Linked DNA regions of Homo sapiens: regions 1, 2, 4, 5, 6 and 7 are each linked to region 3. The links come from fine-mapping of genetic effects on gene expression. A gene starts in region 3. Each other region holds a variant in brackets. All regions are shown on one strand. Distances are from middle to middle. Region 1 overlaps APTR (Alu-mediated CDKN1A/p21 transcriptional regulator). Region 2 overlaps APTR (Alu-mediated CDKN1A/p21 transcriptional regulator). Region 3 holds the start of PTPN12 (protein tyrosine phosphatase non-receptor type 12). Region 4 overlaps PHTF2 (putative homeodomain transcription factor 2). Region 5 has its middle 29 kb from the start of PTPN12. Region 6 has its middle 49 kb from the start of PTPN12. Region 7 overlaps GSAP (gamma-secretase activating protein).

Evidence for each region. PIP is the estimated chance that this variant, and not a neighbour inherited with it, causes the effect.
Region 1: its variant is fine-mapped to the expression of PTPN12 in lung (TOPMed, PIP above 0.99). The same link has a PIP of 0.9 or more in whole blood.
Region 2: its variant is fine-mapped to the expression of PTPN12 in whole blood (INTERVAL, PIP above 0.99).
Region 4: its variant is fine-mapped to the expression of PTPN12 in whole blood (TOPMed, PIP above 0.99).
Region 5: its variant is fine-mapped to the expression of PTPN12 in spinal cord (GTEx, PIP 0.99).
Region 6: its variant is fine-mapped to the expression of PTPN12 in whole blood (TOPMed, PIP above 0.99).
Region 7: its variant is fine-mapped to the expression of PTPN12 in fibroblasts (GTEx, PIP above 0.99).

The regions. Positions count from the first base shown.
Region 1 is chr7:77,657,553-77,661,742 of GRCh38, reverse strand. APTR (Alu-mediated CDKN1A/p21 transcriptional regulator) reads left to right here. Exons shown (of 2, transcript NR_134254.1): 2 at 2,425-4,083. LOC105375363 (a long non-coding RNA gene) reads right to left here. Exons shown (of 3, transcript XR_927695.3): 3 at 3,322-4,190. Among named protein-coding and RNA genes, the nearest start is that of APTR, 37 kb to the left of the region's middle. The variant G/A (reference allele first, on the strand shown) is at 2,173.
Region 2 is chr7:77,683,592-77,687,781 of GRCh38, reverse strand. All of the region lies in intron 1 of APTR (Alu-mediated CDKN1A/p21 transcriptional regulator), which reads left to right. Among named protein-coding and RNA genes, the nearest start is that of APTR, 11 kb to the left of the region's middle. The variant G/T (reference allele first, on the strand shown) is at 1,882.
Region 3 is chr7:77,535,753-77,539,942 of GRCh38, reverse strand. PTPN12 (protein tyrosine phosphatase non-receptor type 12) reads right to left here and starts at 2,648. Exons shown (of 18, transcript NM_002835.4): 1 at 2,298-2,648. The coding sequence starts at 2,396. It overlaps LOC124901681 (a long non-coding RNA gene), which reads left to right and starts at 2,994. Exons shown (of 3, transcript XR_007060395.1): 1 at 2,994-3,572; 2 at 3,662-4,190. RefSeq lists silencers at 2,109-2,158, 2,299-2,508, 2,759-3,058 and enhancers at 3,129-3,348, 3,519-3,568.
Region 4 is chr7:77,902,845-77,907,034 of GRCh38, reverse strand. All of the region lies in intron 6 of PHTF2 (putative homeodomain transcription factor 2), which reads right to left. Among named protein-coding and RNA genes, the nearest start is that of DDX3ILA1, 85 kb to the left of the region's middle. The variant T/C (reference allele first, on the strand shown) is at 1,708.
Region 5 is chr7:77,506,587-77,510,776 of GRCh38, reverse strand. No RefSeq gene overlaps it. Among named protein-coding and RNA genes, the nearest start is that of PTPN12, 29 kb to the left of the region's middle. RefSeq lists an enhancer at 1,116-2,091. The variant C/T (reference allele first, on the strand shown) is at 1,948.
Region 6 is chr7:77,485,751-77,489,940 of GRCh38, reverse strand. No RefSeq gene overlaps it. Among named protein-coding and RNA genes, the nearest start is that of PTPN12, 49 kb to the left of the region's middle. The variant A/G (reference allele first, on the strand shown) is at 1,734.
Region 7 is chr7:77,406,997-77,411,186 of GRCh38, reverse strand. The region is part of intron 1 of GSAP (gamma-secretase activating protein); the gene reads left to right. Among named protein-coding and RNA genes, the nearest start is that of GSAP, 7.3 kb to the left of the region's middle. The variant G/A (reference allele first, on the strand shown) is at 1,559.

The DNA.
Region 1 (4,190 bases), 120 kb before region 3:
AAAATAATTTTTGTCTCATTCTGCTGTAGAGACAAAAAATTTCGTTCTTTCTTTTTTTTTGAAATGGAGTTTTGCTTGTTGCCCAGACTGGAGTGCAGTGTCGAGATCTCAGCTCACTGCAACCTCCGCCTTGCGGGTTCAAGAGATTCTCCTGCCTCAGCCTGTCGAGTAGCTGGGATATAGGTGCCCACAACCAAGCCCAGATAATTTTCTGGTAATTTTTAGTACAGACGGGGTTTCACCATGTTGACGACGCTGGTCTCAAACCCCTGACCTCAAATGAACTGCCCACCTCTGGTTCCCAAAGTGCTGGGATTATAGGCATGAGCCACCACGCCTGGCTGACAAAAATATTTTTAAAAATTCTCCTAATAGCTGTTTTGTTTTGTTTGTTTGTTTTTTATTTTAGGATCTTGCTCTGTCACCCAGGCTGGAGTACAGTAGCACCATCACTGCTCACTGTAGCCTCGACCTGCTGGGCTCAAGTGATCCTCCCATCTCAGCCTCCTGAGTAGGGGACTACACACAGGCACCACCATGATCCGGTAATTTTTAAATTTTTTGTAGAGACTGGGTCTTTTTTTTTTTTTTTTTTTTTTGAGATGAAGTCTCTCTCTGTCGTCCAGGCTGGAGTGCAGCGGCGCGATCTCGGCTCACAGTAACCTCTGCCTCCCAGATTCATTCAAGTGATTCTACTTCCTTAGCCTCCCAAGTAGCAGGGACTATAGGCGCCCGCCACCACGCCCGGCTAATTTTTGTTTCTTTTTTGGTTGTTGTTGTTGTTCGAGACAGAGTTTTGCTCTGTCTCCCAAGCTGGAGTGCAATGGCACGATATCAGCTCACTGCAACCTCTGCCTCCCGGGTTCAAGTGATTCTCGTGCCTCAGCCTTCCAAGTAGCTGGGATTATAGGTGCGCGCGACCACGTCCAGCTAATTTTTGTATTTTTAGCAGAGACAGAGTTTCACCACGTTGGCCAGGCTGGTTTCGAACTCCTGAGCTCACACGATCTGCCTGCTTTGCCCTCCCAAAGTGCTGGGATTATAGATGTGAGCCACTGCTCCCTGCCCTTTTTTTTTTTTTTTTTTTTTCAGAGTCTCACTCTGTTGCCCAGGCTGGAGTGCACTGGTGCAATCTCGGCTCACTGCAACCTATGCCTCCCGGGTTCAAGTGATTCTCCTGCCTCAGCCTCCGGAGTAGATGGGATTACAGGTGCCCGCCACCACACCCAGCTAATTTTTGTATTTTCAGTAGAGACAGGGTTTCACCATGTTGGCCAGGCTGGTCTCAAAGTCCTGACCTCAGGTGATCCACCACCTCAGCCTCCCAAAGTGCTGGGATTACAGATGTGAGCCCAGCCCCTGACTGCTGTTTGAGATATATGTTAGTTTCCTGAATTTGTGCTGAATATGGAGATGCTCTTCTAGGCCAAAGAAGTATTAAAGAAAATGATTACCTTAAAAAGCTAATTTGGGCCGGGTGCGGTGGCTCACGCCTGTAATCCCAGCACTTTGGGAGGCCGAGACACGCAGATCACAAGGTCAGGAGATCGAGACCATCCTGGCTAACACCGTGAAACCCCGTCTCTACCAAAAATACAAAAAATTAGCCGGGCACGGTGGCGGGCGCCTGTAGTCCCAGCTACTCGGGAGGCTGAGGCAGGAGAATGGCATGAACCCAGGAGGCAGAGCTTGCAGTGAGCCGAGGTCGCGCCACTGCACTCCAGCCTGGGTGACAGAGCGAGACTCCATCTCAAAAAAAAAAAAAAAAAAAAAAAAAAGCTAATTTAAAGGCTGCATGCAGTGGCTCATGCCTGTAATCCCAGTATTTGGGAGGCTGTGGTGGGAGGATTGCATGAGCCTAGGAGTTTGAGAACAGCCTGGGCAACAAAGCAAGACCCCATTTCTTAAAAAAATAAATAAAAAAATATTAGCTGGGCACAGTGGTGTGCACCTATAGTCCCAGCTACTTGGGAACCTGAGGTGGGAGGATCACTTGAGGCCAGGAGTTAGAGGCTGCAATGAGTCATGATGTCCCACTGCACTCCAGTCTGAGTGACAGAGCTAGACGCTGTCAAAAAAAAAAAAAAAAAAAGGCCCGGTGCTGTGTCTCACACCTGTAATATCAGCACTTTGGGAGGCTGAGGTGGGCGGATCACCTGCGGTCAGGAGCTC[G/A]AGACCAGCCTGACCAACATGGAGAAACCCCGTCTCTACTAAAAATACAAAAAATTAGACGGGCGTGGTGGGGGGCGCCTGTAATCCCAGCTACTCTGGAGGCTGAGGCAGGAGAATCGCTTGAACCCAGGAGGCGGAGGTTGCAGTGAGCTGAGATCGCGCCATCTAGCCCAGGCGACAGAGCAAGAGTCCGTCTCAAAAAAAAAAAAAAAAAGTTAATTAAAAAATTGCAATGTACTTGAATTTCCTCAGGTATCACCAGTCTGTGGGTACAAAAGGAGAGTAACATGAACGATTCAAATTCCACTGGCTCTTGTTCCCATGGATTCACAGAAGTTCAGCCCCATTTCAAAACTTCACATTTGCTTCTGGGAAGCCCATTCTGGAAAGTTTCTCTGTGGCCCTCTCCAGAAGGCAGCGCGACTTCCACCCAGCAACACAAGTCTCTGCAGCACCTGCCCCAGCAGCGCCAGCTGAGCCCCGGAAGCTGGGAAGGCTTAAGCTGACTCTTCTGCTGCACATAGCAAAAAATGGTCATTTCTGTAGTTGCAGCTCCAGATCTACAATAATCAATCTATATCCATATTTTATGGGGTTTTTTTGAGACAAAGTCTTGCTCTGTTACTCAGGCTGGAGTGCAGTGGCATTATCATCATTCACTTGTAGCCTTGACCTCCCTGGCTCAGGTGATCCTGTCACCTCAGCCTTCCAAGTAGCTGAGACCACAGGCATGCACCACTAAGCCTGGCTAATTTTTCAATTTTTATTTTTCGTAGAGACAGGGTCTCCCTGGGTTGCCCAAACTGGTCTTGAATTCCTGGGCTCAAGCAATCCTCCTGTCCCGGCACCCCGAAGTGTTGGGACTACAGGCATGAGCCACTGTGCACAGCCCTTTTTGTTTTTGTTTTTGTTTTTTTTTAAAGGTAATTTCCCAGTGGAATCCTCGAGATTTCTTCACGTTTTTGGAAAAATGAGTTACATTTTAGATTGTTTTCCTTTTTGGAATTTAATGGTATACATTATATTACATAGCTATGTTGAGCTCTATTTCTATTACACTAAAAAGTAGGCTAATTGTCTTAACTTTCATCAGTAATGACATTAAATGTGTGAAGATTATACTTGGAATAAAGCACTTGGATTCATTCATTTCTTCAGTAAATATTTATTGAGCACTAGTATGTTCCAACGAGTGTCTGTCTACATTCTGGGGACAAGTGATAACTAAATCCCTGTCCTCGTGGAGAGTTAACAATCAACAAACTAACAAACATTTAATTTATGTCATCAACTCATTTCCACAAATATAACAACATCTTGACTTCAAGTTTCCTGAGTTTCTGGTCTAAAGAATTGCTACCTTCAAGAGCTCAAATCATTTGTTGGGGAGAGAGGCCTGTGATATATTTTCTCCTTTACAATGAAAGTAGCTGTAAAAAGAGGAAGAGAAATTCTGAGGGTAAAGATAAAAAATGTTGAAATCTTCTTTCTGGATTTCAGATTGAGTCTCTTGCCCTAATTGATGCAATTTACACTCCATGCATCTCCTTCCCTGGACCTTCTCCAGTTCTTGGGGACTACAGATGAACTTACTTTTAATGCATTTTATGGCATTTGGAGGCCCTCCAGTGGACAAATACTATACCTGAAAAAAATCCTTTTGCTGTGCTAAAGTGTTCAGGTGTGAAGTGTACTCATGTTTGCAAATCACTTTGAAATATATAAACAAAAATGAATTAATGGATGAATAGAGTGATGCATAGATCATTAGACATGTGATAAAAATAACTGTTAATTGTAGAATCTAGATGATGAGTATATTATATGATATGGCCCACTGTATAATTCTTTCAACTTTTCTGTTTGAATGTTTGATAATAAAATATTGAATAAAAATCTTTTTGCTAAAGATTTATGCCTTGTAGTTCACATTATTGAAAATTTTGCTGAGATAACGTAAATTACCTTTCAAAAATCATCTTAAAAATTGTCTTAATAAACATGGATTAATTTTTATT
Region 2 (4,190 bases), 150 kb before region 3:
TGTCTCTCCTGGGGTTAATTATGCTGCCAGAATTTTCATATGGAAGAACATCAGCTCATTTTGATACTTATTTTAAGAAAGGGATAGGAGGCCTATAAAATGTGTATCAGGAGCCTTATTCAATAATATAAATCTCTGAAAAGAAAAGCTTAAGTTTTGTGGTTGTTTAAAAAAAAAAAAAAGGTTTGTGGTTCCAGTCAATTCTCCAGGAAGAGGAAGCTATTTTAGGTAAGAACTGGTAGGTAGAGAGTAAAGTGTATTTATCCACACCTTGAAGCCTAGGTCTGGCAAAGAAATGTAAGGAAAAATGATAGACTCATAGAATGTCTGAATTGCAAATGCAGCCCTGTACGTAATTTGTTAATTTTCTTTACTATCCTTTACTTTCTTTTTGAACAGTGAATAACCTCCAGAATAACCATTCTTGGCTTCATAGTTTGAGCCACACTGTCAGACCACTTGTGGTTAAGAGGATAGTGTTTACTGAGTGCCTTGTGTATCTCTTATGTTTGTGGGTGTTATGCATCATCCCAGTTCTACAAAGCTTTCCAAGGCATTTTTCAAAACTGAGCTGGAATTTCATGTTTATTCTGACTCTACACCAGTTTTCTTTCTAATATATCCTATTTTGCAAGAGGAAGCAGAAGTCTAAAGCATCAAAATGTTAAATCCAGACATTGGTCAGGGCTCTTTAGAAGTTTAAGTTAATTTAAGTTTTATGTTTAGAAAATAGGCATTCAAAAAAGATGCAGTGTTTCTTAGAGTGCTGGTAGATTCCAGTGCTTTTATCTCATAGAAAAGAACAGGTTTGAATGTGTCCCCGAAAGTTGTGTGTCCCCCAGAGTTCATGGGTTAGAAACTTAATCTCTAATGCAACAGTGTTCAGAGGTGGGACCTTTAAGAGGTGATTAGGTTATGAGGGCTCCGCCCTCATGAAAGGATTAATGCCATTATCCAGGAGTAGATTAGTTTTTACAGGATCGGGTTCCTGATAACTGATAACCCACAGTTAGAAGAGTGCAGTTTTGTACAAATACTGCACATGCCAGTAGAGCCAACAAAGTACAAAACTATGACTGTCACAAAGTTATTTCATAATTTTAATTTTGCAGATTCTGCTTTGAAAAGCTTGTCTGTATGATTTATGTGCCTTGAGGTAACAATATGATGCTATCCTAATACATATTTTGCCTCAGATTCAAGTGCTGGCTCTTCTTGATTCCCCTCAAATTAATAACTACTTCTATACCATTAGTTTGAAAATAGATGAATAATTAAAACAGCTAAAGACCCATCAAGGAAATAACCTCTCTCTCTTTTTTTTTTTTTTTTTTTTTTTTTTTTTTTGAGACGGAGTCTCGCTCTGTCGCCCAGGCTGGAGTGCAGTGGCGGGATCTCGGCTCACTGCAAGCTCCGCCTCCCGGGTTCACGCCATTCTCCTGCCTCAGCCTCCCCAGTAGCTGGGACTACAGGCACCCGCTGCCGCGCTCGGCTAATTTTTTTCGTATTTTTAGCAGAGACGGGGTTTCACCGTGTTAGCCAGGATGGTCTCGATCTCCTGACCTCGTGATCCACCCGCCTCGGCCTCCCAAAGTGCTGGGATTACAGGAATGAGCCACCGCGCCGGGCCTAACCACTCTTTTATTTAACTTTTAAAGCTAACCCAATAAGTCTACTTTTTCTTATTTTTCACGTATATTAAGTGTTTAGTCAGTAAATACTTAACACCTACCTGTTGCCAGGCACTAGGCTAAGTGCTAGAATATAGCAAGAGATATGGCAGACATGGTCTCTGTCCTCATGGAGTTAACTTTAATCACAAGATCTGTTTCCAAATAATCTGTTGTTTAAGACTATGTTGTTGGGGTGAGGTGGGAGGGA[G/T]AGCATTGGGAGATATACCTAATGCTAAATGACAAGTTAATGGGTGCAGCACACCAAGATGGCACATGTATACATATGTAACAAACCTGCACATTTTGCACATGTACCCTAAAACTTAAAGTATAATAAAAAAAAAGACTGTGTTGCTCTGTTGTTCAAGACTGTGATCCTATTTATTACTGATGACAGTCAAACAGTATTAAGTGTCTACAATGGGCCCAGCACTGTGTGACAATGTAATTAATAATATAATGAGATTAGTAAGCAAAGAACATGGGGAAAGACTTTCTAGGCTGAGGAACAAGCATTTGGAAAGAGATGAGAGTAATGACACACTCAATGTGGTATTGTTTATGAGAAGTTCATTGTGGTTCAAGGATAAGGGACACGAAGTGCCGTAAAAGGAGAGGGCTCTCTAAAATGGGTGAGAGCCAGATTGTGTAAAGTGTTGCTCTTGACTGCCTTGGCATGCTGAGGAGTCAGTAAATACCTTTTGTTAACTTAAGGGCTTTAATGAGGAAGAGTGAAAAATGTTTACGTAACCATTTTGACTTCCTGCTCATTCCTCACAGGCTTCACCAGGTACTGCCTTCTAACGAGCTGGCCATTTCCACATGTCAGATAGGACCAACTTGCCTTTTAACTACCCGTGTGATACTTAAACACTGTTGCCGGTATCACAGCTTTTCTTCAAAACAGGTAATATTAGGGACACTTGAAATTTGGGAATTAGATTTACCTTTGCTGTTACTAAATAATTGTTAGAATTTTAAATGTCATATTCATTTTACTCAACTAATCTCTTTAGCTTTCCTATTTATATTCCTACTTATGATTACGTGTAATTCTCATTGGAAGGATTAAAATATTTTGAAAGTAAGACAGTAAAATTGTGAAATACTTTGGTATTGGTTACAAAACAGTACTTAGGTACCTTCTTCCTGATTTTTCTGTATTTTTAAAAAATAAGGCCAGGCACAGTGGCAAATGCTTATATTCCCAACTGCCCAGTAAGCTGAAGCAAGAGAATTGCTTGAGCCCAACCTGGGCAACATAGTGAAACCCCAGTCACCAATTAAAAACAAACAAACAAAAAGAGTATATTTTTTGAAGATATTTTATCACATATACAGAAGCAAACAAAGAGGGGAAGGAATTGTTTAAAATAATGTTAAGCTAAATAAAGTCAAAGAAAATTTAAGTAATAGTTAATAGTTATTGTTATAGAAGACATCAATTTACTACCCCGTTCTCAAAAAGGAAAATCTGCAAGTAGACTGTAGTGCTAGAGTAAGCTTTTCCTTAATTTCAGAAAGCCTGTATTAAGCATTTACTTTATGCCAAACTCCATTTTAGGGACTGGAAATATAAAATAAATAAAACACAGTCCCTGCTCTCAGTGAACTTGTTGTCTAGGGAATGTTAAGTAGAACCACCTGAAATTGCATTGTTTTTGTAAGCCAGCTATCGGTTCCACCTGACATTATATGTGGAAACAGAAATTTGCAATAATAAAGATATGACCACGGTGCTACGGGGCACTGACAAAATGCTTCATGCTGCCCAGGGCAGTCAGTGAAGGCTCCCCAGGGGAGATGACGTTTGAGCCGAGTTTCAGAAGATGATTGGAGTTTACCACGTGTTCACAGGAAGCAACGAGAATGAGGGCATTCCAGTAGCAGGAGACAGCATGCATAGAGATGCTGATGAAGAAAGAGCCTAGCGCACGTGGGAAACTGCAAAAGTTCAGACTGGTTGGAATGCTGGAAATGTTGTGAATGACAGGAGATGAGGCTGGCGAGAAAACAGAGGTCAGATTGTGGAAGGCTGTCAAGCCAAAGACTTTGATTTTATTCTTGAGATTGATGAGATGTGTGTAATCCAGGAGTGTGCAAAACAATCTGTAAGGGTTCAGAAAACATACTGCTTCTATATATAGTTACCTTTGTCTTAACTTGAAAATTTCAAATTGTGTAGGAGTTACAATGTGTGTAATTGTTATTATAGTACTGGATCCAAATAATTTATAAATAAATAAATATAGACATAATATGGTGTATTACAGGTTAAATTGTGTACCTCAAAAATTCATGTTTAAGTTCTAACCCTCATTATCTCAAACTGTGACCTTATTTGGAAATACTATCATTGCAGATGCAATAGTTAATGAGGTCAAGTTAAGAAGCAATAGGAGGCCAGGCATGGTGGCTCACACCTGTAATCGCAGCACTCTGGGGAGGCCAAGGTGGGTGGATCACCTGAAGTCAGGAGATCAAGAGCAACCTGGGCAACATGGTGAAACTCCGTCT
Region 3 (4,190 bases):
CTTTGGGAGGCCAAAGCAGATGGATCACTTGAGATGAGGAGTTCGAGAGCAGCCTGCAAATATGGCGAAACCCCATCTCTACTAAAAATACAAAATTAGCAGGGCGTGGTAGCTTGCGCCTGTAGTCCCGGCTACTTCGGACAAAAATTAGCCGGGCGTGGTGGCACGTGCCTATAATCTCAGCTACTCAGGAGGCTGAGGCAGGAGCATCGCTTGAATCTGGGAGGCAGAGGTTGCAGTGAGCTGAGATTGCGCCGCTGCACTCCAGCCGGGGCGACAGAGCGTAGAGCGAGACTCCGTCTCAAAAAAAAAACCAACCAACCAACCAACCAAACAACAAAACCCAAAAAAACTAGTTTTAAACATCTTAAATATTCAAAGTATTTTCTTCTACTTTTGCTAGAAAGTAGTAAAAAAGGGACTCCATCCAATTGCTGTAAATGACACCATTCAAAAGATACCAAGACAATAAAAACTCTCAATAGTAAAAAGGGAAAATGCCGTTTTCCTTAACCCTTTCAGATCAAAAAGTAATTTTTCAAAAATACATAGGCTAAATATCAAGAGCAAATGTTTAAATATAAGCAATATTTTTATTTTTAATAAGGAATAAGTTAGATTATTTAACTTATATTTTCAATCTTCAAAAGATACTGAGAAAACTTTACTTCCGTCCTCTATTATTGGTCTGGGGAGGCGGGAATCACAAAGCTCAACGATGCTAGTATAATACTGTGTATGGTCAAGGGCCTATTTTATAAGCTGTTAAAAATTTAACGCTAAAGCTTTACTAGACCAGTCTCTTTAAAACGTGAAAAAGTATTCACTACTAAGTCATATCACCTCCACCATAAAAACTACTGTACTTTTTAAACAAAAAATAAAAACTAGCCAATGTTTGCTGCCCATTCATTTTACAGGCATTAACTGTGTATCCTTCTCATAATCAGATTTCAGAATTAAGTGATTATTCTTCGAGGTGTACCTTACCCAAGATAAAAATTTTCCCCAGCTTATTTCCCATTCCCAACCCCCGCCAAGACTAAGGAGCAACCACTTCCCAAAGTCCCACTTCCTTTTTCATTCCCCAGACCTACAGGGTTTCCAACGCCCCAGTCTTGCGCAATATCCGTAGGAGCAGCAGCCGCAACCACCGCCTCCTAAGCCGGGAAACAACCCTAGAGGGAACATTGTCCAGCAGAAAAATAAAAAGGGCGGGGGTTGGGGGGGTGGGTAACGTAGGAAGTCGACTTCTGGTCTCACGCCTTCGGATCTGACCCCCTCACAGTGTGCTAAAGCAATAGTGTATCTAGAGCAATTTCATGAACAAGACTTTTAACCTTCACCTCCTCTCAAGACTGCCTGCACAAGCAGAGGGCGGAAAGTAGGGGGTGGCGGAGGCGGGGGGGCGCTGGGAAGGTTATCTCCCAGTTCAGGGCTTCGGCCCGTAGCGTCGCCTCCGCCCCACCAGGACTATTGTTCCCAAGTTCCCCACCCCCACCCCGGATAGGAAGTGATAGTCACATCCCCTCCGCCTTCGGCAATATCCCCTGGGGAGTCCGAAGTCGGCTGGCTTCCTTCAGGATAATTCCCCCACCCACACTTATCCCCTGAACCTATAGTCACACGGACCCCAAGACCACCTCAAACCTGGGCCTCAGGAGAGGAGAAGCGGGACGCGGGTAAATGGAAATTAGGTAAACCCATGAGATTCCTTATGGGCAATCCTTTCCCAAGCGTTGGAGATCATGACTGCGACCCCAGAAACGGCCTAAGTCCTACCCTGCCCGCTTTGAGACCAGCTAGAGCAAAGGGATCCCAGGAGTTAGTGCCAACCTCAATACCCCCGTTCCTCTGTCAGCCACGATCTGCACTCCTCCCGGTCACAGCCAGATACCTTGCCTCGACCCTCCTGGGAGGAGCGAACTGCGCGGGGAGGTGTGGAAACGCGAGCCCCCCCCCCCGGCCTGCACCTCACTTGCCTACGGCTCCCGGCCCGGTAAACAATAGGTGGTCGCGAGCCACGGTGCAGGCTGCGGGCTCGGCCGCGCGGCCGCTCCCTTCGCGTCCCGGGAACCCGCGCGGGGGTCGCGAACATGGGAGAAGAAAGGAGGCCACGGGGGGAGGCGCTCTCGCCTCCCGCTGGCCTCCGAGACCACCCGGCTCACCCGGCTGGTGCGCGCCCCCTCCGCCCCTCTCCTCACAGAGGTACACAAAGCACTGGCGGCCCGGCCGGGAGAGGCGGCGATGGGCTCCGGCGCCGGCAAGAAAACGCGACAGCGAGGGGAGAGACTCACCATGAAGTCCCGGGCGAAGTTGTCCTCCCCATTGTGGTCAGGACTCTTCATGGCCTGGACCCTCTGGATGAATTTCCTCAGGATCTCCACTTGCTCCATCCTCCCGCGTCCCCCCGGCTGCGGTCGCTGGCCCCCCCGCCGCCCGCCCGCCCGGCACAGAGCCCGCTCCGTCTTCCCCAGCTCGTTCCCCCAGCACGTCCCTCCCTCCCGACCCCGCCAAGCCCCGCGGCTCCCTCCTCCTCCCCACCGCCCTAGGCGGCGGCTGCGGCGGCACCGGCTGGGCTCCCGACACCACAACTTCCAGGAGCAGCCGCCGCTCTCCCACAGTACCAGGCGAGCCGCTGCGCTAGCGCCAACCCCAACCCCCAGCTTGCTCCATCCTCCTTCCCCGCCCTCCTCCTCCGTCGGAGACGCCGCCGCCGCCGCCGCCGCCGCCGCCGCCTCAGGAACACAGCTAGCTCTCCGCTCGCCCTGCCCCCCCTTCCCGGTTCCTCCTCCCCCCCACCCCCCGCCAGCAGCCGCAGCCGCAGCCGCAGCCGCCTCTCCCCACGGGCGCGTCCCCGCCGCCACCCAGATGCGCGGCCTCGCGCTGCGGCTCCGCCCCAAGCGCTGCGCCCGCAGATGCATCCCCGCCCGCCTCCCGGCCACGCCCCCAAGCCCGCCCCGCCGGCCCCAGCCCCGCTTGGAGTGGCTGGAAGGCACTTCAGCGGGCGGCCTGGAGACCTGACTCCATTTCCGGGGCGTGGCCCCGCCCGGGGTGCTCAGAGGTCGGAGTATCGCTGGGAGGAGAGTTGGTTCATTTGGAGGAGGGAATGCGACTCTGAGCGGGCCAAGCCCTAGTGGGTCAGAGTAGGATTCTGATGGAATTTGCGGTCTCACCGCCTACTAGGGAGGAAAAGCAGTTTTCAGGAGTCCCGCACCGCCGCCAGCCGTGGGCTGGGACTACAAGTCACGGTCTGTGGAGTCCAGGAGTGGGGGCGGGCGGGAGGCAGGCTGGGAGCTGTAGTAGTGTCACCGCCACGTTCGCAGCAGGTAGATGCTCATCTTGCTAACGGATTGGTGAGAGTGGACAGCAATTAGGCTTTGGCACCTTGGAGCGTGGCTCCAGCTAAGGGAAGCGAAACGCTTCCTGGGTGAGAGGACTTTTATTCTTTGCTCATCCTCTTAAACCTGGCGAGTGAGCGCCTGAGGTTCGGAGTGCCTTCTTCACAGACGACGCGAATGTGGGGTCTTCGTGTTTGCCGAACTGAAGGGAATTTGCCTTCCTGCCTTTAGGTTCGCAGCAGTTCATAACTGAATAAGAGACTTTCCTCCATAGAATGGACTTTATAAATCTATTAATTTTTTTTTTTTTTTTTTTTTAGAGCTAAGGTCTTGCTCTATCTCCCATGCCAAAGTGCAGTGCTATGATCACGGCTCGCTGCAGCCTTGAACTCCTGGGCTCAAGGCATCCTCCTGCCTCACTACGTCACCAAGCCCAGCTAATACATTTTAAAAATTTATTATTTATTTATTTATTTATTTTTGGTAGAGAAGGGGGTCTCACCAGGTTGCCCAGGCTGATCTCGAATTCCTGTGCACTAGGGATCCTCAGCTTCCGAAAGTGTTGGGATTTTAGGCGTGAGCCACCGCGCCTAGCCTATAAATCTTTATTCATCTTTGTAAACTTCTATCAGAGAATATATTCTGGTCTAACTCATCATTTTACAAATAAAGCGACTTCCTGACATCCCCCAGCGTATTCTTAGCAGAGCCGTAACTAGAAGTTATTTTACTTTCACAACAGTGGCCTCTCACAATGTGACAGAACTGAAGGATTTGATCCATGAACTGACTTTCGTCATTTATACCCACAAACCTTTTTTTACAGAGCAGATTGGTCAGCGAATTTGG
Region 4 (4,190 bases), 370 kb before region 3:
TTAGGTGAGGTAGTGCATGTAAAACATTTTGAAAAGCTGCTTATACACCGTAAATGTATACTTAACATTGGTGAATAGTAGCTTTTTTTTTTTTTTTTTTAGCTACCATTAACTCTTAATTTTTCTTGAGACGGAGTCTCGCTCTGCTGCCCAGGCTGGAGTGCAGTGGTGCGATCTCGGCTCACTGCAAGCTCCGCCTCCCAGGTTCACGCCATTCTCCTGCCTCAGGCTCCCGAGTGGCTGGGACTACAGGTGCCCGCCACCACGCTTGGCTAATTTTTTGTATTTTTAGTAGAGATGGGGTTTCACCGTGCCATTAACTCTAATTTTAAAAGGGGCAAGTACAAATGCTTACTTAAGAAGTTCAGAGTTTCAGACACAAAGGAGAACATCTTTTAAAACTTTAGGTTTTATATAACCTGTTGCTGGTTATTTATCTGAACTCTTTCAGCCCTGTGATCACCATTCTCTGTAATCCTAGGGCTGGGAGCATACAAATTATATTTTCTGTATATCTTAACAGGAAGTTATTACATACTGTGAAATTCTGACGACAAGGCATTAGAAAAAGGAGGAGGAGCCACTTTCTTCCTCTCTTTTTCCTTCTTTCTTCTGACTGTATCTTTCTAAAAGTGATCATGTCCCTCCCATGGTCTCAGTTCCTGAGACAGTAGCTTTTCCTCCGTAACTCTGGTATCACTTCCCCTTTTTGTTTTCCTCTCAAGTTAAGGTTTAGAAGATATATGGAGAGCCGGGCGTGGTAGCTCCTGCCTGTAATCTCAGCACTTTGGAAGGCTGAGGCCGGCAGAACACGAGGTCAGGAGTTTGAGACCAGCCTGGCCAATATGGAGAAACCCCATCTCTGCTAAAAATACAAAAATTAGCTGGGCTTAGTGGCACACGCCTGTAGTCCCAGCTACTCGGGAGGCTGAGGCAGAAGAACTGCTTGAACCTGGGAGGTGGAGGTTGCAGTGAACCGAGATCATGCTGAGATCATGCACTCCAGCCTGGGCAACAGAGCGAGACTCCGTCTCAAAAAAAAAGAAGATATATAGAGAAAACATTCACTTATTTTATATAATGCTGAGTTATACTTTTTGAGCATTTAATGAAGTCCTACGAACTAGACAGTGCTGCTAGAGATTTCTGCTGGAGATCAACTAAGACAGAATGTTGTTGGGCACAAATATTTCAAAGGCAGGACTTCACGTACTGGGCAAGGGGAACTCTAGGAGTAGGCTGGATGCAATGGCTCACACCTGTAATCCCAGCACTCTGACAGGCTGAGGCGGGTGGACTGCTTTAGCCCAGGAGTTTGACACCAGCCTGGGCAACAAGGCGAAACCCTGCCTCTACAAAAAAATTTCAAAAATTAGCTGGGAATGGCAGTGCATGCCTGTAGTTCCAGCTATGGAGGTAGAGGTAGGAGGAATGATTGAGCCTTGGAGGTTGAGGCTGCAGCGAGCCATGACTGCACCACCGCACTCCAGCCTGAGCAACAGAGAGAAACTGTGGTGGCTGACAACTGTAATCCCAGCACTTTAAGAGGGTGAAGTGGGAGGATTACTTGAGGTCAAGAGTTCAAGACCAGCCTGGGCAACATATTAAGACCCCATCTCTACAAAAATAAAAATAAAAATAATTAGCTGGGCATGGTGGCGTGCTCCTATAGTCCTAGCTAGTTGGGAGGCTGAGGCTGGAGGATTG[T/C]TTGTGCCCGGGAGTTCAAGGCTGCAGTGAACTATGATCGCACCACTGCACTCCAGCCTGAGCAACAAAGCAAAACCCTATGTCTAAAAAACAGAATAGAATAGAATGGAATATTATCTTCCATTTTTAGGACTGTTAATCTTTAAGATTCAGTGGCAATTAGGCAATGCAGAAAAAAAGACAAGACACAGTCTCCGCTCCCTATCCCTTGGTTTAGACCAGGGGTATCCAATCTTTTGGCTTCCCTGGGCCTCACTGCAAGAAGAAATGTCTGGGGCCACACATAAAATACACTAACACTAACGATAGCTGATAAGCTTTAAAAAAATTAAAAAAAATCTCATAAGGTTTTAAGAAAGTTTATGAACCTGGGTTGGGCCACATTCAAAGCCATCCTGGGCTGCATGTGGCCTATGGGCCATGGGTTGGACAAGCTTGGTTTACAGGAAAGAAGAGACATATAAAGAAACAATGAAAATACCTGTTATGAACTAAACTGTGCTCCTTTCATCCTCCCCACACAAATGCATATGCTGAATGAAGCCCTAACCCACAATGTGACTACGTTTGGAGACAGGGCCTATAAGGAGGTAGTAAAGGTTAAACAGATTCGTAAGTGTAAGGCCTTAAACTGATACGACTCTTGTCTTTATATGAAGAGGCAGAGATACCAGAGTACTCTCTCTCTCCACTCACACACACAAGAAAGGCCCTGTGAAGACACAGCAAGAAGGTGGACATCTACAAGTCAGAGAAGCCTCATCAGACACCAACTCTGACATTGCCTCACTCTTGCACTTCCACCCCTCAGAATGGTGAAAAAATAAATTTTGTTGTATAAGCCACCCAATCTGTGGTATTTTGTTATGGTAGCCCAAGGTGACTAATATAACACTTATGATTAACTGCTATAATATACATAAGAAAGATATGTAACTACATTGGGGAGTTACGAAAGGATTCTTCAAGAAAGTGATGTCTGATGTCTAATCTAAATTTGAGAGAACATAGAGGATTGACTAAACAAAAGGGAAAAGGGCTACCCCACGCAAAGGGAGTTGCATGTCCAAAGACACATAGGCAAAAAAGCATGGAATGTTTAAGAAACAGCAAAGAGCTAGTTTAGCCTGGTTAAGGTGGGATAGAAATTCAAGGAGGGATTTGAAAACTCAGATTGCATCTTGAAAGCAATGATAACTAGTGAAGAAATTTAGATCTTAAGCAGCTGGTTTGAATTTGTCATTTAATAGGTAAATGGACAGAAAGTAGAAGATGATATGAGGTTTCCTGGCAGTAATCTTGGCAAGAAACTAGGCAACCAAGACATGCAGAAATGGGGATAGAGCTGAGAATACATAGCTGAGATACTTAAAAAGCATGTAATTGAAATAAAAAAAACTATACATAGTTATATAAAACCAAATCTGACTGCATTTGATTCTTTCTGCCTTTCAAGAAGTGCGAACAAGAATGAGGACATAACTCAGAGCACTGCAGCACCCTGCTTTTCCACAGGGTGCTGCAATGGAGACAGACATACAGTGGTTTTCAAAGGTAATGGCAGCCTGCCGAGGGTCATCAGAGTCACATCATGACTTTGGCACTAGCTGTGTGACTTTAAGAAGGTTAAGTCATTTCTCTAACTAAGCTTTACTAGGAGAATGTTTAGTGTTCATCATAAGGGCCTTATGATTAAACTTGGATTCTGAACTTAAAAATATCTCATTTAATGCCCAATCTAACCCGTGTTCCCTATTTAACTTAGAGGAACCAGTAAGTAAATTTCAGACACAATATAATTATACAATGTCAGTGAACTTTTAGTTACATTGGAAACTTGTTTGTCGTGGAATACTAGAAAGCAGCAATATCTTAAAAAGCACAATGCACTGTGATGTACAATCAATGGTACTGAATTACTCTAATAAACTATTGCAATTTCTGACCACATTCAAATAAAGTTTTCTCATCTAGGTAAGCCAGAAAACCTTTGAAGATAACTATACTTAAATTAAGCTCTCTTAAGTCCTTTTGAGAAGAAAACAAGAAAATGATAAAAATTATGATCACTATAACTAGAAAATACTGATAAGCAAATATGATCACTTCAGCAGTAATTATAATAGCAAAAAATAGCAATCAGCTTAACTGCCCAATATTGAAGTAGGACAAGATATTTTCTAGTAACTTAGAAGTTATATTTACAAAGACTTTGATATTATGACATTAGGTAAAAAAAAATGTAGCTGTTCATATAAAATAATCTCAACTATTTAAAAAGTATTATAAATTTAAAGGCAAGATGATGGGTAGTTCTTTTTTTCTTTAGCTTTTTCTACATTTTCCAAATTTCCTGCCATGAAAATATTATTATATCTTTAATCAGAAAACACATACACACATTCTAATAACAACAAACCACAAAATTATCATAGTCCACACCCTTTTATGTATATAAGATGTAACCTGGCTTAGAAGAAACA
Region 5 (4,190 bases), 29 kb after region 3:
TGTTATTTTTTCACTTTTTAAAAATAGCCATTTTGACTGGTGCGAGATGGTATCTCACCCTGGTTTTGATTTTGATTTGCATTTCTCTATTAACTGGTGATACTGAGTGTTTTTCATATGCTTGTTGGCCACATGTGTATATTCTTTTGAGAAGTCTCTGTTCATGTCCTTTGACCATTTTTTTTTTTAATTTATTTTTTTATTGATAATTCTTGGGTGTTTCTCACAGAGGGGGATTTGGCAGGGTCATGGGACAGTAGTGGAGGGAAGGTCAGCAGATAAACAAGTGAACAAAGGTCTCTGGTTTTCCTAGGCAGAGGACCCTGCGGCCTTCCGCAGTGTTTGTGTCCCTGATTACTTGAGATCAGGGATTGGTGATGACTCTTAACGAGCATGCTGCCTTCAAGCATCTGTTTAACAAAGCACATCTTGCACCGCCCTTAATCCATTTAACCCTGAGTGGACACAGCACATGTTTCAGAGAGCACAGGGTTGGGGGTAAGGTCACAGATCAACAGGATCCCAAGGCAGAAGAATTTTTCTTAGTGCAGAACAAAATGAAAAGTCTCCCATGTCTACTTCTTTCTACACAGACACGGCAACCATCCGATTTCTCAATCTTTTCCCCACCTTTCCCGCCTTTCTATTCCACAAAGCCGCCATTGTCATCCTGGCCCGTTCTCAATGAGCTGTTGGGCACACCTCCCAGACGGGGTGGTGGCCGGGCAGAGGGGCTCCTCACTTCCCAGTAGGGGCGGCCGGGCAGAGGCGCCCCTCGCCTCCCGGACGGGGCGGCCGGCCGGGCAGAGGGCTGACCCCCCCACCTCCCTCCCGGACGGGGCGGCTGGCCGGGCAGAGGGGCTCCTCACTTCCCAGTAGGGGCGGCCGGGCAGAGGCGCCCCTCACCTCCCAGACGGGGCGGCTGGCTGGGCGGAGGGCTGACCCCCCCACCTCCCTCCCGGACAGGGCGGCTGGCCGGGGGGGGGGCTGACCCCCCCACCTCCCTCCCAGACGGGGCGGCTGGCCGGGCAGAGGGGCTCCTCACTTCCCAGTAGGGGCGGCCGGGCAGAGGCGCCCCTCACCTCCCAGACGGGGCGGCTGGCCAGGCGGAGGGCTGACCCCCCCACCTCCCTCCCAGACGGGGCGGCTGGCCAGGCGGGGGGCTGACCCCCCCACCTCCCTCCCGGACGGGGCGGCTGGCCGGGTGGGGGGGCTGACCCCCCATCTCCCTCCTGGACGGGGTGGCTGGCCGGGCTGAGGGGCTCCTCACTTCCCAGTAGGGGTGGGCGGGCAGAGGCGCCCCTCACCTCCCGGACGGGGCGGCTGGCCGGGCAGGGGGCTGACCCCCCCACCTCCCTCCCGGACGGCACGGCTGGCCAGGCGGGGGGCTGACCCCCCCACCTCCCTCCCGGATGGCACGGCTGGCCGGGCGGGGGCTGACCCCCCACCTCCCTCCCGGATGGGGCAGCTGGCCGGGCGGGGGGCTGACCCCCCCCACCTCCCTCCCGGACAGGGTGGCTGCCGGGCGGAGAGGCTCCTCACCTCCCAGACGGGGCGGCTGCCGGGCAGAGGGGCTCCTCACTTTTCAGACGGGGTGGTTGCCAGGCAGAGGGTCTCCTCACTTCTCAGACGGGGCGGCCGGGCAGAGACGCTCCTCACCTCCCAGACGGGGTCTCGGCCGGGCAGAGGCGCTCCTCACATCCCAGATGGGGCGGCGGGGCAGAGGCGCTCCCCACATCTCAGACGATGGGCGGCCGGGCAGAGACGCTCCTCACTTCCTAGATGTGATGGCGGCTGGGAAGAGGCGCTCCTCACTTCCTAGATGGGATGGCGGCCGGGCGGAGACGCTCCTCACTTTCCAGACTGGGCAGCCAGGCAGAGGGGCTCCTCACATCCCAGACGATGGGCGGCCAGGCAGAGACACTCCTCACTTCCCAGACGGGGTGG[C/T]GGCCGGGCAGAGGCTGCAATCTCGGCACTCTGGGAGGCCAAGGCAGGCGGCTGGGAGGTGTAGGTTGTAGTGAGCCGAGACCACGCCACTGCACTCCAGCCTGGGCACCATTGAGCACTGAGTGAACGAGACTCCCTCTGCAATCCCGGCACCTCGGGAGGCCAAGGCGGGCGGATCACTCGCGGTTAGGGGCTGGAGACCGGCCCGGCCAACACAGCGAAACCCCGTCTCCACCAAAACCAGTCAGGCGTGGCGGCGCGTGCCTGCAATCACAGGCACTCGGCAGGATCTTCTATCTGTCCAAACTGGGACCGAGTCCTCGGCCTCGGAGGCTCCACGCTCCCTCTCTCACAGCCCGCACCTCGGCGGTCTCTCGGAGGAGGGAGGAACCCGAGGTACCTGGTAGTCGTAGCTGAGGAACTTACAGGCTTGTTGACCATCTCACCATGGAAACTCGACCATTTTTTAATGGGGTTGTTTTTTTGTTTTGTTTTTGTTTTTGTTTTGAGACGGAGTCTCACTCTGTCGCCCAGGCTGGAGTGCAGTGGCGTGATCTCAGCTCATTGCAAGCTCCGCCTCCCAGGCTCACGCCATTCTCCTGCCTCAGCCTCCTGAGTAGCTGGGACTACAGGTGCCCGCCACCACGCCTGGCTAATTTTTTGTATTTTTAGTAGAGACGGGGTTTCACCAATGTTAGCCAGGATGGTCTTGATCTCCTGACCTCGTGATCCGCCTGCCTCAGCCTCCCAAAGTGCTGGGATTACAGGCGTGAGCCACTGTGCCTGGCCAGGGTTGATATTTTGTTTTTTTGTTTGAGATGGAGTCTTGCTCTTGTCACCCAGGCTGGAGTGCAGTGGTGTGATCTCTGCTCACTGCAACCTCTGCCTCCTGGGTTCAAGTGATTCTCCTGCCTCAGCCTCACGAGTAGCTGGGATTACAGGCACCTGCCACCATGCCTGGCTGAGTTTTCGATCTTTTGTAGAGACGGGGTTTCACCATGTTGGCCAGGCTAGTCTCAAACTTCTGACCTTAGGTAATTCGCCCATCTTGGCCTTTTCATTCTGTTTTGTAGAATGGAGCCTAACCCCGCCCCCCCCCCCAAATAAAAATAAAACAAATTTTCAATTACAATGAGCAATGCACAAAGATATTGAGGTACATAAGGAAGTCTGGCCCTGTAAGCAAGATTCAAAGGAAACAGCAGATATTAGAAACAGATCCACAGACTATAAAACAACTATGTATGTCTGTAATTAAAAAAATAAAAAGACAACTTGAAAATATCTTCAGGTAACAGAAAACTATCAAGGGATATAGCATATTGAAAACAGACATTTTGACCAAATTGAGTAAATTTAACTAGTTTGTTTTTTCTCATGTTTAAACTTATTAATTAAATTAATTATTTTAGTCTTTCTAGTGTCATGTTTTAAAACCTAAATCAATGTACTATGGCCAAAAGTGTTAATCTCAACAGCCGTGGAGAATATAAGTGTCATTACTGTTATTATCATCATATATTAGAAAAGTCACAGTATCTCAGCAAATAGTCATCATCAAGTCATAGTATTTTACTTACAATGATACAGATTCATGATGTCCTTCCATTTGTACAAAGGTAATTAGTTCTGACTCTTAAGTCATTTATCTGACAATCTGTCCAGCTTAAAGATATGAAACCAACCTTAAACCCACTGAAAAAAGAACTTACCACTAGATTCCTGTATCAGTCAGGAATAGCTTCAGCTGTGAGTAAAAAAAAAAAAAAAAAAAAAAACAAAAAACAATGGCTTAGTCTAGAGCTGAGGTGGCCTGGTACTCTTGTAGCTTCCATTCCCAAGGTCACCTCTTGTTTCAGCTGGGCTACTCCAGCCATCACAACCATATTCCAGTCTGTCTGAAGGAAGAAAAGAATAATCGGGGGCAAAGGACCCATCAGCTCTCTTATAAAGACGGTTTCCATGAACTGCCATACTTTGCTTACCTATAAGAAAGAGAAAAGCATGGCCAGGTACAGTGGCTCACCATGCTTATCCCAGCACTTTGGGAAGCCAAGGTGACTGGATCACTTGAACCCAGAAGTTCAAGGCCAGCCTGGGTAACATAGTGAAACCTTGTCTCTACAAAAAATATAAAAATTAGCCGGGTGTAGTGGCACACACCTGTAGTCCCAGCTACTAGGGAGGCTGAAGTATGAGGATCACTTGAGCCCAGGAGGTCGAGGCTGCAGTGAGCTGTGAGT
Region 6 (4,190 bases), 50 kb after region 3:
AATCCATCACACGTTTTACCCATGTCTTCTATAGGCACCTTTTCTTTGGTGTTAATGACATCATCTTCATCGTCACTATTATTGTGATCATCTTGATCCAGAACAATTTCAGCTATTTCACCATTGGTCAATGAATGAACAACTGGAGGCTCATTATCAATGTTAAAAGCTTCTTTGATATCTACTTCTTCCAGCTTACTGATGCATATATATTATTATTTTGCATATATAAGGTCAGACATTCATGTTTTCCTCACTTGACATATGAAATCCTTCAAAGTCACTACTTAGTTCATCATCATCATCACTGCACATAGTCACAGGTTAGAGGTTGCAGGCATGCAAAACTGTATCTTTAGTCATTGTCTTCCAAGCATTGGCAACAGCATGTATGGCATCTTTCATGCTAAACTCTTTTTGCAAACCTTCCACACCCACACCTCTTGTCACTGCTGCTAGCATGCTGTTCAGGAAAGTGTTTTTATATTTACTCTTCATTGATCTAAGGATACCCTGGCCACATGGTTGAATTAATAAAGTCACATTTTGGGGAAAGTAGATGGCATAAACATTTTTGATGAGAATTTCAGCAGGAGGGTGAATAGAACAGTTGTCACGTGTAACAAAATCTTGCAGTCATCCTCCAGTTTAGCTTCCCTGCAGTGAGCATGAACTTCTGGTACAAAACATTGGAGCACCAATCAGAAAATATGTCCCTGGTGATCTGTGCACTTTTGTTAGCATAATAATAGTCTGGTAAGAAATCCACTCCCTTAAAATAGTGAAGACATAAGCTTTTGCCTGTCACAGCAAGTTTACAATGTGTTTGTGTGCTGCATTAGCATATCCCAGTACAGTTATTCTGTCCTTGGCATCCTTAATTCCTATAGGGGCTTTCTCATCAGCTGTAGTCAGTGTCTTCCTGGGGCAGTAACACAAAACAGTGATGTTTTATAAGCATTATAGACTTGTTCTGGTGTCAGATTTTCATCAGTGATAACTTGGGCACGCTCATCAATCATTGCTGCTTTATGATCAGCAGATGCTTTATCACCTCAAATTGTAAAAAAAATAATGTTGTGTCTTAAATGTATGCAGCCAGATATATTGAATATTCACAGTTCCCTTCAATTTCCAGTTCATCATAAGTCTTTGCTCATTTCATTATCAGCATGACATTAAGTGGCAAGTGTTCACTGCATCGCTGACCGATCCAATTTTTCAATACATGATCAAGACCATTATTTTTAGTTTTATGCAGTGTTTTTCTGTTTTTACTAATTTTTATTCATTATTTTTAGCATAGAACTCCAACTGTTTATCCTTCTATTGTTTCAGGTCATATATGGTGGTCATTCTGACACCATACTCTTCTATTAAGATGTTTCACATTCGCACCACTGTCCAGTTTCTCCAACAGCTTGACTTTCTGTGCTATCCTATAAACATAAATGCTTCCTCTTTTGTTGGTATCTGCAGGCCTTTTGAACATTTTTTCAGCAACATCTTTACACCACAGGGTAGAAAATAAACAAGAAAACACAAGGAGCAATGCATGTAGGTCTTTACTACATGTAGGGCATTTTGGGGAACCGGCTGTTGGCACATCCAGTCTGCACATGTGCTATTTTATTACGTTTTATGGGTGTGCTTTCATGGAGGAATTTGGTCATGCACAGAAAATATATATTGCAGCTGAACTGGGGTGGAAGGGTCTTTTTTCCCTTGGAGAC[A/G]TTGAATAAACTCTGTGTTGTATGCCTGCATTTTTACTGTGATCCATCACTTGGGGTCAGGTGTATCAGACTTTGGAGAATTTTGGATTTCAAATTAGGGATGCTCAACCTTTGTGTGTGTGTGTGTGTGTGTGTGTGTGTGTGTGTGTGTGTGTGTGTGTGTGTGTGTTTTGAGACGGAGTCTTGCTCTGTTGCCCAGGCTGAAGTGCAGTGGCGCAATCTCGGCTCACTGCAAGCTCTGCCTCCCGGGTTCACGCCATTCTCCTGCCTCAGCCTCCGGAGTAGCTGGGACTACAGGCACCCGCCACAACGCCCAGCTAATTTTTTGTATTTTTAGTAGAAACGGGGTTTCATCGTGTTAGCCAGGATGGTCTCGATCTCCTGACCTCGTGATCTGCCCGTCTCGGCCTCCCAAAGTGCTGGGATTACAGGTATGAGCTACCGCGCCCGGCCAACCTTTGTGCATTCTTAATCCCATCCACAGCATCTCAAGTTAAGTAACTTGGCCAACAAAGTGCACCAAGTGGGCGTGATAATGATAGCAATGACATGAGGAAACTGTTTCCAAAGGGGATTAGGCAACCTCCCCAAAGTCGCTCACTAAGAAAGTGGCAGAGCCAGTTCTAACTCCATAGTCCAAAAGCAGCACTGTCAGCCTGGAAAGACTACAGAAACTTATAATCTTGGCCAGGCGCGGTGGCTCACGCCTGTAATCCCAGCACTTTGGGAGGCCGAGGCGGGTGGATCACAAGGTCAGGAGTTCAAGACCAGCCTGGCCAAGATGGTGAAACCCCGTCTCTACTAAAAACACAAAAATTAGCCGCGCGTGGTGGTGGGCACTTGTAATCCCAGCTATTCGGGAGGCTGTGGTAGAGAACTGCTTGAACCCGCGAGGCATAGGTTGCAGTGAGCCGAGATTGTGCTACTGCACTCCAGCCTGGGTGACAGAGTGAGAGTCCGTCTGAAAAATAATAAAAAAAAGGAAACTTATAATCTTAGAATTGAAAGAGACTTCATAGATCATCTAGTTTGTTCAAACTCCTCCAGCACACCAATTTTACATATGTAGAAACTGAAGTACAATAATATTAATGTGCTTTCAAATGAGGATAAGATGTGAAAGTATTAGTTCAATTGAATTCTTTGTTGAGTGTGTTGTAGGTATTCACATTTTAGTAAGTAAAGAAGAGGATGCTGTGATAATATCTGGACAGAAGGATGTTGCTGGCAGTGGGCTAATGATCAGTGAATGAAGTGAACAAGATCCAGGTGTTTGTGCTATACTGGGCTCCCCACCCACATTCCTCATAGTTCCCCTATTTTCCTGTCATATGCTTATAAACTGTTGAGGGCAACATGGGAGTTTAGAGAAATCATAAAGGTGTATTTTAGGAGTATGCAGTTCCCCCAAATTAGCCTGTTCTTTACCAGTTTCCAGTTGGAAGTACTTTTGTTATCAAAAACAATTACAAGAAATTGCCCATTAAAAGGAAATATGAGTAGATCTGTAAGCCTGAACTGTAAGGTTCTCTAGATGGTCTGTTTACTAGATCTCTTGCAGAATAAAAATCATTTGTAATGTGATAGGGTCTTTTTTTGCTTTGGACAGAAATGAATACTTTACTCATGGTATTTCATTTTTAACAACTCCTGGCCTGGCACGGTGGCTCACGCCTGTAATCCCAACACTTTGAGAGGCCGAGGTGGGCAGATCACCTGAGGTCGGGAGTTCGAGACCAGCCTGACCAACATGGAGAAACCGTCTCTACTAAAAATACAAAATTAGCTGGGCATGGTGGCGGGCGCCTGTAATCCCAGCTACTCAGGAGGCTGAGACAGGAGAATCACTTGAACCCAGGAGGCGGAAGTTGCGGTGAGCCTAGGTCGCACCATTGCACTCCAGCCTGGGCAACAAGAGCAAAACTCTGTCTCAAAAAAAAAAAAAAAAAAAAAAGGGCAACTCCTTTGCTTCTCATTCAAAGCAAAGCTCATCCTCCCCTACTATCTTCAGTCATGTCCAGTTAAGTGTACACACTCCACAAAGCTACCTTCTATCAAAGAACTTTTTCCTGTGAGAGAGCCACTTCTTCCAGGATACAGATTCTACAAACTCCCTCTCTCTAAGGAGCTGGTTCCAGTGTTTCTCATCCTTATAATCAGGAAGTTCATCTTTGCGTTTACCATATACAATCCACCACATTTCTCCTGGCTGTGCTTGCTGTGCCACTGGGACAAGCTAGACAAAATTCAGTTACTAGGGAACCTTACCAAACTCTCAAGGGATTGGCTACTGCCATGTGAAGTACCAGGACAAATTGTAATGTGCCCACCATGCCCTTTAAGTGACAGTAATCCCCCTCTGATGCCCAGCTCAGTCTGGCCACTCCTGGAGATTTTAGTACTCCCAATTTATTGTAGCCCTCTTCCTCACATTCCCCAGCAAAACAACTACTATTA
Region 7 (4,190 bases), 130 kb after region 3:
GTTGCCTCCTATGTATTCCTAGATTGATTTGGGGGCCAGAGGGTTACCTTAATCACATTGTTTTCACTTTTTTTTTTTTTTTTTTTTTACTATTTTCTTGCCACTATCTGTCCTTTTTACTTTTTTTTCCGCTAATTCTTTCCTAGTCTCCTCTTCTAATTCTCATCTCTCTCTTAACTTCATTTTACTCAGAATATGAAATATAAATCACATAATGTTTACTGCATAGGTTTAGGAATTATAATAACTGGTCATCTTGAGCCTGAGGATTTATATGAATTATTTACAGAATAGGAATGTTATAGGTATAATCATATTTTGTCACCTCTTGATGTATGTATTAGGAACTAGTTCAAAATTTTGTATAAGGCTGAATGACGTTTTTCTCCTTAAATATGGTCATTGGAAAGACAAATACTTTAATTTTTGTCTCATAGCAGTTTGGGATAAAATGTACACATTTGAGAACCCCTATTCCTGTAAAGTGAAATCACTTTTGTTTGACAAAGAATAGATTGAAACGAATGAGAATATCTGGCCAACCAGCTTTTGTTTTACAAGAGCTATGCCTTGCCAATATCTTTAATATCTAGGTACTCTCGTTTCTTTTATAGGTTTACCTATGCAAGTATCTATCAAAATGCTACATTGTTTTATTCATGAGAACTGAATATACTAAACTGTGAAATTAAGCCACATTTCCTCATTTGAAATTGCAAAACTTCTTCCTCTGGACTTTCCAGTGATGAACTACTGGGAGAAGAGTCAGAATGAATAAGCAAAGAGGTTACTGAATACTTCTTTTAAAAGGGTGTGTTAAGACATGGGCAACTCGTCCAGGGAGGAAGAGCCGATGGCTTAATAGTATGTGGTGAGACATTGGTCTCTGGATTTGCAACATTACCAAATTTGTCTATTTCACATGTCCTTGAAATGTGAACTGTGTACTTAACTGCAGGGTATTCAGCCCTGCAGTTATTACCTAATGTTCCCATGAAAACATTATTTTTATTTCTTTCAACTCTCTGTCTACCATGGTTATATTATAAGATGGTCCAAGTTATGCCCTCTAACAAATATTGCTTAATATGTAATGTACATTTGTAGTTCAATGGTTCTTAACCCTGGCTGTACATTAGAATCACCCAGGGAATCTAAAACACATACATGTACACCAGAGAGTGGGCTCCACACCAGCTCAATAAAATCAGAATATCCTGGGTATGGCTTGGGGCATCAGTGTTCTTTTAAAAGCTCCCTTAATGATTTTAAGACAGCCAGAGTTGAGAACCACTAGTTTAATGGGATAAAAATGTGTCATTTATTGTAATCTGCGTTTGTTGGAGAATTTTTTCTCTTAGTATTATAGTAATCTGAAAATAGATACGCTTTTGCAAGTAAATTGGATTTAGCAAGATTTCTTGTGAAGGAGTTCTTATCTTAGCCGAAACCTTTTAACTGTACTTTTGCGACGATCTCTCCTCGCATACTTATAATCTTGAAAGAAAAAAAATACTTCTCAAAATATTGACACATTGCATTCCAGAAGTTTTGAGTC[G/A]TGTACAGGATGAACAAACTCACTGAAATTCTCTTTAGATGTCTACAATATCTGCCTTTCAAAGGACTTTTGAGTAATTACCCATTTTCTCATTGTAAGCTTGATACAGAACACTCAGTCCATTGTTCTGTTTACCTTTTTCTAGGTTTGAGTTCAGTCTACGCCACCTTTTCACTGTATATTGGTCAAGTATCATTATCTCATTGAAAAGTATAGTAGGCCTGGAATACCTTATACAATGCAGATGAGATAGAAATGAGAACTCTCTAAATTGTGAAGGCCTACTTAGCCATAAGCTTATTATTATTATTAAGAGACAGGGTTTTGCTGTGTTGCCCAGGTTGGTCTTGAACTCCTGAGCTCAAGCCATCCTCCCACCTTGGCCTCCCAGAGTGCTGAGATTACAGGCGTGAGTCATCATGCTTGGCCCATGAACTGATTATTTAAATCCTAGTCTCCTAAGAGACCAAATTATTATCCTTATTATCCTTCAGTGTGAAGTGAGTCTGACAGCTCCATATACATGTCAATATACTGACAAACGTTTATACCCATGTATAGAAAACACTTTGCCCTATCCCTTTGCCCTGCCCCTAGGAGACCCACTAAGCTGCTGCTTGTGAGGGGTGGGGAAGAGAGATCTCAGGATGATGTCTAAGTTCTCAGTGAAACCTGGTCTTCCTCTCTCTAAATGTTTCCCACCTCCAGCTCCAGTGCAGGTGTCCAGCTCACCAATTATCCTTATTTTTTATCTTGTCTTTTCCTTTTAGGAATACAGACAGAAATTTGCTGAGTTACAGATAGTTTGCATATGTTTTGTCTGAATATTAGAATTTGTCATAATCAATGTAATTAACATGTAAAAACTATTCCTGTATGGGAAAAATGAGTCAAATTTAAGCAATTTATCTTTTCTTTTTTTTTTTTTTTTTTTTTTTTGGAGGCAGAGTCTTGGTCTGAAGTGCAATGGCTCAATCCCGGCTCATTGCAACCTCCACCTCCTGGGTTCAAGTGATTCTCCTGTCTCAGCCTCCTGAGTAGCTGGGATTACAGGTGTGCACCACCGTGCCCAGCTAATTTTCTGTATTTTTTAGTAGAGATTGGGTTTCACCATGTTGACCAGGCTGCTCTTGAATTCCTGGCCTCAAGTGATCCATCTACCTCAGCCTTCCAAAGTGCTGGGATTACAGGCGTGAGCCACTGTGCCGGCCATAATTTTGGATAACTTTTGAGGAAATTGGGAAAGTACACACTTCTGCCCAATTAGTGATAATTACAATGGTGAATCTACCAGTGTTTAAATCCTTTAACTGTAGAATTAGGAGAAATATCCTAAAATTTTAGAAGAAAGATGGTCAGTTAACTTATAGGTTAAATGTTTTGTGTAAAGAGTCTGTATATCCTTCAGCAAAATAGGGCTTTCATATAGACAAGGACACAAGTTATAAGTTCACAGCTTAGTTAATTTTCACCAAGTGAAACACACTTATGCAACTAAGACTCAGAACAGGAAGGAAAACATTAATGGAACCTCAGAAGTCCTTCATGCTCCTTTCTAACAGTCACTTATCTAACACTGTACATTAGTTGTGCCCATTATTGAAAACTTGTGTATGAATTGAAACATACAATTTGTACCTTCTTTTGGTGGTGGGGAAGGTTCTTTTGCTCAGTTTCACATGTGTTATTGCAGAATATTAATTCATTGTTTTGTACTATTCCACTGTTTGGATATAACACAATTTATTCATTCTTCACTTAATGGATAGTTTGGGTTTCTGGTTTGGGCAATAATGTACCACAGTACTATAGACATTCTTATGTGTCCCTTGCTAAATATATGTATATATTTCTTTTGAAGATATATGTACAAGTGCAGTTGCTGAGTCATGTGTTCAGCTTCACTAGATATTGCCAGTTTTCCAATTTATACTCCCATTAACAATGTATGAGAGTTTCAGTTGCTTCAGATTTTTTTTGCATCACATAATACTAAAACATAATAAGTCAAGGATGCCTGTTACAACTTTTAGTATAACTAATAAAAGAATAGCAAAAACATATAACTGACAATAGGTAATAGAATGAAATAATAAACTTAGAAGAGTAGTAAAACAGGTGAGACACGTAGAAAACAAATAGTAATATGATAAATATCAACCCAATATGTTAGTAATTACATTGAATGTAAAAATGGACTACATATCCCAATTAAAAGATTAAGAATGTCAGATTGGAGGAAAAAATCTCAAGTGGATACTGCTTATAAAACATATCTTCAATATAAGGACACAGGAAGATTAATAACAGAAAGTTATGCAAGCACTAACCAAGCTGATGTAGTTATACTAATATCAGACAAAGTAGACCTTAAAGTAAAAATAATTATTAGAAATAAAGGACATTGTATAATGAATAAAGGGTTGCTAATCCAGCTCCTATATTAAAAACTTATGTGTAATTTTTCAGACCCAACTATGTGCAGTTACAAAGACTTTATCTGACAGGCCTTATGGGAGAAAGCTGCCCTCCCCAAATCCGACTTGGTGTGTGGTCAATGCCCTGTAGTCCCTGAAATGAGTTGTGCCTGTGATTCAGGCCCCGCTGGCCAGCCATACTCTTACAGATAGCT